Regions from separate parts of the Homo sapiens genome. Here region 2 is linked to region 1. Evidence: fine-mapped expression QTL. A gene starts in region 1. The other region holds a variant in brackets. All regions are shown on one strand. Distances are from middle to middle. Region 1 holds the start of SMCP (sperm mitochondria associated cysteine rich protein). Region 2 holds the start of LCE1D (late cornified envelope 1D).

Region 1 (4,394 bases):
GACTCACACGTTGGACCCAGCCCCAGCGCAGACTCTCTTCACTTTCACTTTCTGAACCATTGGAGCCTCATCTCAGGGTTTCTCTGTGGGAAGGAGGGGAGCACAGTGCTACCTCTTATAAGGACCCCTATGTTTGAATCTCCTGAACTACAGCATTAGGGTGAGAGAAGATTGGGAGGGAAGAGTTATCTCTTAAGGCCCTGCCACCTGGTATAAACCTTTCATGATCCTAAGTCCCTGGCTATATGGCTGCAGCCTGAACTGGGTCAAGGGCAGTTCCCACCTAAAAAGGGGAGAGTGACTTGGGTTAGGATGTTGGCTTTAATTCAGTCATGACTCTATCTCTGCCAGTTATTCCTGGATTCATCCTATCTTTCAGGAAAAGGCCCCTGCTTCCATTTAAGAGGAAGACACTAGAGCAAAGACTCCTAAAGGATGGGGGTGGGGACAAGTCACCCTATTGCTCCTTCTAGGTCAGAGGAAGCTGCAAAGAGGCTGAGGTGGCAGATACAGGCCCTGCGATGCCTTGACTTGCCCGAGAGAGAACAGGAAGGAGAGAGGTGAGCAATGGAGAGGCACACCAAAAATGGAAATAAGACGGAGACAGACCAGTATAAAAATAGGGAAGAGGTGAGAGAGTACAGGGCCATGTTCTCTACCACCTTTGCAGTGTTCAAAGCTGTTTGACAGGAAGTGTGTGTGTGTGTCCACACGCACACACAAGCACACACTTGGGTGCCCCTGCAGCTGTACAGTGGTGAATTTGGGTGTGCCGGGGTATGCAGGGAGCCCAGTATCTGTCCGTATCTCCTTGTTGTTTGAATCTGCTCCCTTAGAGGTCAGACCTAAGACTAGGTTTTGAGAGGGACGAGGGAGGAGTGAGCCCCTTCTGTTTTTATTTTCTGTTGTTCCTCTCTGTGTTTATTTTTGCCTTTTGCTATTTTTTTTTCCTCTCTGCCTCTCTATCATTCTCTGGTCTTCATTCTGTCTCTACCTTTCTGTCTTTTGTCTCTGGTTTACCTTTCTCTACTCTGAAGGTCAGTGCCCTGAATTGACCAAAGTGCAGAGTCTCATCACCACTTGGAAGTCCAGTTTGTTAGTGTCCATCTTTACAAGTCCAGACTGAGCTGTTTCTACAGAAGCAATTCTCATTCCAGTGATCAGAGGTGCAGAGGCATCAGAGGCACCTGGAGCCCAGGTCCAGGGGCTTGCCTCACCAGTCCCACCAATGTCCCCACTCCAAGCATGTCCCCCATAGTGAGATCCTGGGAATAGGTCCTGAATGTGGAGGTTGTGCAATATCAGAGAAGGACAGCAGGTTGGAAACCAGTCTTGTTGACTGTAGCATAGGGAGGGCAACATCAAGTCCTTCTGCAACCTCACCCCCATGGATGCAGGTCCTGCCCCTCTGAGCCAGTGCTGTCTCCACTGTCTTCCTTCTGCCTGGTGAATAGTATCTATATCCTCCACTTTCAGAACCCTGGCTCCTGTCCAACAAACCTGCCTCCTGGACCCCTCTGCCTCCTGCAAGAGTTTCTTCTTAAGATTCTCTCCTTGGCCGGGCACAATGGCTCACACCTGTTGTCCCAGCGCTTTGGGAGGCTGGGACGGGTGAATCACTTGAGGTCAGGAGTTTGAGACCAGCCTGGCCAACATGGCAAAACTCCATCTCTACTGAAAATACAAAAATTAGCTGGGTGTGGTGGCGTGCACCTGTAATACCAGCTACTTGGGAAGCTGAGGCAGGAGAATCACTTGAATCCGGGAGGTAGAAGTTACAGTGAGCCGAGACCTCACCACTGCACTCCAGCCTGGGTGACAGAGTGAGACTCCATCTCAATAAATAAATAAAAAGAAACAAACAAATAAATAAATATTCTCTCCAAGCTCCATTTCCCTTCCTTCCCAACCATGCTGTGCACAGCCTGCCTCAGGAAATCTGCCTAATCATGTCAAACACTTGTGGTGCAAGGCCAGGGCCATCTTCCTAGCTCTTATTGCTCTATTCAGAGAGGATTGATACAGAGCCCAAACCACCAGGAGGGCTCTGGCAAGGCACCTTCTCCCTCTGCCCACAGGCCCAGCCTCATGTCCAAACACTGTTCCCTCAGGCACCAGACTGGCTCAGAGCAGACACCTGCTGAATTTTCTCACCTCTTTCCAGGTCTTTGAATGTGCTCTTTCCCAGCTTAAACCACCCTTCCTGGGTCTCTGTCCCCACATGCTCACTGAATATCGTTCAAACCTGAAGTCTCTGCTTACACATCACTCCTCGAGGAAAACTTCCTTAACCCAAAACCTCCATCTCCCTGAAAGGCTTTCTTGGATCCCCTGTACTTCCCATTACATTTTTATAGTGGTTATTATTTTCCCAATTGTCTCACTTTTGTGGTCTGTTAGTTCCATAAACACAGGCATTCTCACTATCCCCACCCCCAGTGGCTCCCATGTCTTCCTCTTAAATAGAAGCAGGAGCTTTTTCCTGAAAGATAGGATGAATCCTGGAATCCTCTCATCCAACACACTGAATGGCATTGCATGGGTCTCAGTAGGTAAATACGTAATGAACTAATGAACACATGAAAAAGCCATGGAGAGAGGACCCAAAAGACAATGTTTCTCTGTGTTACCTGGTCTGGCCACACACACAATTCACAATTTCCATGCTTGACTTCTCATGACTGATTCCAGTAGGTATTATTGATCTTCCTCAGCAGCCTAGTGAGTCCATGACTATCAGAAGCCAAAGCCTTCTGAACCAGATGGGTTCCCTTCCCTGCTAATGCCAAGATTCTAAGCCTCTATGACACCATAATTCTCTCCACAAGACTCTATGCCTAGCTCACTCACTGGCGCCCCCTGCCTGCTGGAGAGTCTGTCTCTTTGGTTTCTTTCCTGAAAGATAAAAAGAAAGCTCCCTAGCTAACCCATAAGCATGCAATAACCTAAAACACAAATCTGTATTGATTGTCTCCTATCTACCAGGCTCTGTCCTAAAAAGTGAAGTGTAGCTCAATGGGATGTAGTTCCCATTCTCAAAGATCTAATTCAATATGGAGGCAAGTCAATAGCCAACAATACCATGTGATAATAATGATGGTAGGATAAGCACAGGGGTCAGGTTTGGGGGTCAGATATGCTTCCTGGAGGGAGTGATATTTAAGCTGAGACTTGGAAATTGGAAATAGGAAGTTGGACATAGGGGTGTGTCTGGGAGGACATTTTCAGATCCAGAAATGTGAAAGTATAGGCTATTTGGTGGAAAAGCTCAGTGTGGCTGGAGCAGAGTGGGGAGTAAGGAGAAGGGGGAGATTCACCTACCTAGGTAGGTAAGGCTGTGTTGGTGAGGACCTTTATGCCATAAGAAAAAGAGTTTGGACTTTATCCTGAGGACAATGGGAACCACTGAAAGGTTTTAAACAGGGGAGAAACTGGGATGCCTTAGGGGCCAGGACCCTATTTTATTCACTTTGATATTCCCAGTGTCTGGCTGAGCAATTGGCACATAAAAGATTCTGAAACTGAATCAATTGAATAGTGAATTGACTAAAATAATGATAAGAGAGAAGCATTTCATTATGTTTACTCTTTCCTTTTCTTCCTGTAGCATGGCCTCTTTGAGGACAGTGACTAGGAAATTCTGTTCTTCTGGGAAGCATGCCTGCCATAAACATTTGTAGGACACCAGGCAAGAGCACAAACAGAGGCTTCTGACCCCTGTGGTTCACCCCTGGTTCTCTTCCTACTCCCTGGCTTCATCTTGTGTCACGAGGGACCTCGGGCGTGCATGAGTGTAAATATCCTAGTCCATACCGTCCATGTTCTTTTCATACATGGATCTCTCAAACTGCCCCTCTCTTGGTCATTGAGACCTAGAAGTGAGCACAGTATTGGCTGTTTGAGTCTTCAAGAGGATAGACACATAAAGGTGATCTCAGGGCCAGTTGACAGAGATTTCTGGGGTCCTGGATAGCTGGAGTGAGAGAGACAGCAGCTCTGGGCCTGTACCCTGGACCTATTGAATCATCCTATGGGGGTGGGTCATGGCTGGAGGAGAGCCAGAGAAGGACTCTTTAAAGTCTGAAGTCCAGGACAGAACCACCTCGGCCAAAGGGTAGCACTCTTGGGAAGTATGTGAATTGTGCTTTTCATTCTATAATAGCCTATTCAAGTATTTCTCTTTTACTTGTCTTCTTCAGGTCTTCATGCTTATAGTTATCTCTAAAATTTATTCTCAGTAAAATGTCTACTCTTATTCACATCTCCCAAAGTCTCTAACATTGTAGTTGGGACCAAAGCCTTAATCTATAAGAATTAAGTTCTTTCTAGGAAGAGTACGGAGAGGGAGAGAGAGGTAGAGTGAGAGAGAGAGGTGGAAATGGCCAACAAATCTA
Region 2 (4,394 bases), 83 kb after region 1:
GCAGAACAAGGATGACACAAACAGGAAAATCAAGCAGGCTGGTAGCAAATTGGGGAGCAGATTCTGGATTTTATTTCTTCAGTTCAGGCAGCACAGAATACAGTAGCGTGAGCTGGGGAGGAAGTAGGTGTGTGCTTTGGAGTTCCCAGGGCAGCCATGGATCTGCAGAAGAAAGTCTCTAAATGCCATTAAGGAGAAAGATTTTGGGTTTCCTGACACCAGAGCAGAGGGATTCTCCAGGCAAGACTTCAAGCTTTTGCTGGAACCTCTCAGCTATTCAGGCAGAATCAGAAGGAAGAGGAAGTCAAGGTCCACTTCAGCAGCAGCCTCCAGAGTGCTGGCTGCTGCCCCCACCGCAGCAGCTGGAGCCCCCCGAGGGCTGGCTGCAGCAGTCAGAGCTCTGGGGTCTGCGACGGTGGGACCTGTGGCGCCTGTGGTGGCTCAGGCAGCAGCCACCACCCCCAGAGCTGCAGCAGCCCCCAGAGTTGGAGCCACAGCCGCCCCCAGAGCTGGAGCCACAGCAGCCTCCGGAGCTGACACTGCAGCAGGAAGAGACTGGAGGGCACTTAGGGGGACATTTAGGGGCGGGGCACTTGGGAGTGCACTTGGGAGTGCACTTGGGAGGGGGCTGGCACTGCTGCTGGCTCTGCTGGCAGGACATCTCGGTGGTGGGTGTTCAGGAGCTGAGGGAGAGTCAAATAACAAGTCAGACCCAGGCAGAGGCCACCTCTGCCCCTGTGACACTCTTAGCACCTCTCAAGTTTAAAAGCATCATCTTCAGTAGTTTTATTTCCAATAATTTCCTCAAAATCTCACATCATCTTTTTCAAGATATCTTTGGATGTCAGACAACTGTAAACTAAGACTAAACAATATTGCAAAATGCATCTAAGATTCTGATGTGTTGTCAGTGGAGGAAGAAATTATTACAAATATATCTTAAGACTGAAATTGTCTAATTTATGAGTCATTTAAGAGAAAATTATTTTTAAAGGAGAAGAAGCAGTCATTCTCTCTGGTCATAATTTGCAAGACGATTTTACTTTGGAAGGTCAGCATTGTGCAGGATCTTGGAGACTACTAGGTCAGTAAACTCACTTCAATAGAGACAGATAAACTTAGCAGTTTCTGCAGACTAGTACTTGAACCCTGACCCCCTGATCTCAGGTTGGAGCTCAGACTTCCTCACTCACCACCTGCTCAGGCTGATGGGATGACACGGTGGGTCTCAGGCTTGGTGTGTCCTAACCAAGCTGGGAAGTTTGTGAACAAATCTCAGACCCATGAAAATGTGGGGTTCATAAACCCCAAAGAGTCTTTAGTCCCATGTCCACAGCTCCAGTTCTTCCCTTGCAGGCAGAGACAGGGTTGTATCTTCAGAGGTGGGCTTCCCTCCTGTGGGCTGCCAGAGTGGAGCAGGTCTCTGTGCTTCAAAGTTCCCACTCTGGAACACCCACCTCATCCCAGAGCAGTTTGTTTCCTCTAGAGTTCAAAGGCACATGGCACAGCCCGCCAGCTCTTTTCCTCTTTTCCTTCCTGCTCCCAGTTAGTGCCAGACCCCTTTTGGCCCCCGCCCCTTCAGTCTTTTCTAAACTCTCCACCTCTGACAACATGGCCCTAGCCCCGGAGGCCCTGCCCCTCCTTCCCTCCTGCTCTGTTCTGAGCATCCCTGCTCTGTTCTTACCGGAGTCACAGGCAGCACAGGGTTCTTTAGCACCTCAGGAGGTGAGTGGATGGGGTGGTCTGGCCCTGAGCCCTTTTATCCTGGCCTGGGCTCTGCCCCAGCTGTGAGACAGGGCCTGGGCATGAGAGGACCTTCCTTCTGACACCCACGTGGGTCTTGTGATGGTTGGTGACTGACAGCTCCTCACCTGCCTCTCTCCCCAGGCTCAAGGCAGCCACTCCCAGGTAGGAAAGTGCCTACTTGAAACGGGGTTCCAGGATGACTCCTACCATCACCTACCTCATTCACTTGAAGGCTGCTTGCCCTGAGAGCCTCTCAGTTCTCAGTCTTAGAACTTAGGACCTATCTCATTTCTGTCTCTTCCGAAGTACCTGATGCTCCGTGCAGCCTGGGTTGAAGTTGAAGTACTAATCCCTGAGGTTTCCATGCATGTTTATTTCTGTCCCTGTGCACCACCAAACTGTGTGGCTGTGGGTGCAGTGTAGACATCTACACAAGTAAAACCCTGGAAGTATAACCCGGCCCAGGACCAGGCCCTGCGAGATGGGACTGTTGAAACTATTTAGCCTGTACCATTTTTTAAACCATAAAGCTGGAAGATGAAAAAGAATTAGTTACAGAAGAATTAGTTGGTTGTGAAAGTCAATAAAGTAACACAAAAAAGAGAAAATGTGCCTGACAGAGAGACTGAAACATTGTAGGCTCTGAATAAGTGAAACATTCATAACTTGCTGAATACAGAATGAAGATACTGATCTTTGTTTAACAAACGAAGCACAGCTTTTTTCTAATGAGAGTGAGTCTGGCTGTTTGGTGATCTGTTTGCTTTTAAATAGCCCTTTTCTTCTGGTGGGGTCCTTGATGTGTCAGCACTGAGATGTGAACAAGGAAGCAGCTCATTAGAGAAACAAGAAGCAGCAGCTCTGCTCTTTGTATTGGTGTGAGAATTTGGACTTTTCTGGGTTCACACTGGGAGCACCGGATGATGGTCACAGATGAGAAACAGGAAGAAAAGAGACATGGTTGTGAGACATTATAAGTCTA[C/T]GCTTCCATGTGGGGTCAAATGGCTGGCAGAACCCCGTCCTGGACCATAAGGGGACGGGTGCCTTTTAAGAACAAGAGTCCTTAATATTTAATGTGAATGTGTTTATGCTGCTACTTTGGAAGCCCCTCTCCTCTCTCTCCACTAGAATCACTAGCTTTCTACATGTCCACAGGATTTATATGAATGGAGTGTTCTGAATTTATACATTTTTAGGATATTAATGAAATGGGCTGCTGTTCATTCTAGGACACACTAGTCACTAAGACAGCCATGACTGCAAGGTTATCCACAAATTAAACTATTTCTTCAGAGGAAGACCAAGAAAAGCCAGATTAAACCATATGAGGGACAAGTCCTCTTCTTCCCAGCCCCTGACAGACTCTGGATATGCCCAGAACTTGGGAATGATATCTAGGTCAAAATGGACATGGTGACCCTAACCAAAACGTGGTGGAGATACATGTATATTTATAAACACATATACAGAGCATACATATTGAGAGAGATGTATATGTGTGTGTACCACCTGTCTCAGAGCATCAATTATTACAGCTGCCCAGACTCCTGTGATAACGTAGTATCTCCAAACACTGTAGTGTGTCTTTGATTCTGTTCTTTTATGACATCCAAGAAAACATCTTCCATCCCTGTACATAATTAACACTAAATCATTAGTAAAGTCTTGTTCATGATTGCACACTGTATAAGGGTAAATGTCCAAATTCCTTCAGTGAAATAAGACTCTGTGTTCTCCCTTTAGTTTAAGCCTTTGTCATCTACTCTCAGAAATGTTCTGAAACTGAACTGGATTATATTCTGTACTTTGATTATGCTTCTCCCTGCAGTGCATGCCGTGGCCTCTACCCTTCCAGGACAGTGTGGCTCAATCCCACTTTTTTATTTATCCTTCATGTGGCATATCACTCTAATGAGATAACAGTAAATGCTTTGATGGCCTGCCTTGGGTGTTTCATACTTCTTACCTCCGTTTTTCAACACAGAGCTATGTGCACAATGGATATTTAATGACTTTTAAATGCTCTCATTGGTATTAGCATTGATTTACAGTTTATAAACAGCTATTCCTTATGACTCAGGCCACCCTCATAGGAGACACACTCTGAGACAGGCTCAGTGAGGTGTGTGGGCCACATCACCCTGAGAGGTCTGACACCATCCCTCCTGGGTATGACATTTGTTCTCCTGCTCAGATTGTTCCAAAGGGCTTAGTAATGGGGGAGTGGTCAGGACATTGGTTCCCAGGTCGTCACAATGGCAGGTCTACTCAGAAGTTCAACTCCTGGTATCTAGGATGATAGGGCTGGGATACCATCTGGTCCATGCCTCTGTCTTCATGCAGGGCAACACCCAAGCTCTCAACTGACATAACTCAGATGTAGGTGTTGAGTCAGCAACATAGTTGTATTAGGAAGATTGGAACTTGAATCTTGGCTATGAGATATCATGGCTTAGCTATTAGGTCAAATAAGATATCTTGTCCAGCAAAGCACTGACTTTCTGAAATTTCCTATTTGTCAAGGTTTTTCTCTTTTAGGTAGTCAAAAATTCACCGTCTCATGGGATGTGAGTGAATACTATTGCGATCTAACCAGAAATAATTCAAATGGAATAATTTTTTGTATGTGTTCTATAACCAGTAACAAG

What was found. PIP is the estimated chance that this variant, and not a neighbour inherited with it, causes the effect. A credible set is the group of variants that fine-mapping cannot tell apart.
Region 2: its variant is the best candidate, but not a certain one, in a credible set for the expression of SMCP in cerebellum (GTEx, PIP 0.64).

What each region holds. Positions count from the first base shown.
Region 1 is chr1:152,876,683-152,881,076 of GRCh38, reverse strand. It overlaps SMCP (sperm mitochondria associated cysteine rich protein), which reads right to left and starts at 2,755. Exons shown (of 2, transcript NM_030663.3): 1 at 2,631-2,755. RefSeq lists enhancers at 30-209, 570-629, 760-839.
Region 2 is chr1:152,794,062-152,798,455 of GRCh38, reverse strand. It overlaps LCE1D (late cornified envelope 1D), which reads right to left and starts at 1,735. Exons shown (of 2, transcript NM_178352.3): 1 at 1,685-1,735; 2 at 275-683. The coding sequence starts at 661. The coding sequence ends at 317. The variant C/T (reference allele first, on the strand shown) is at 2,729.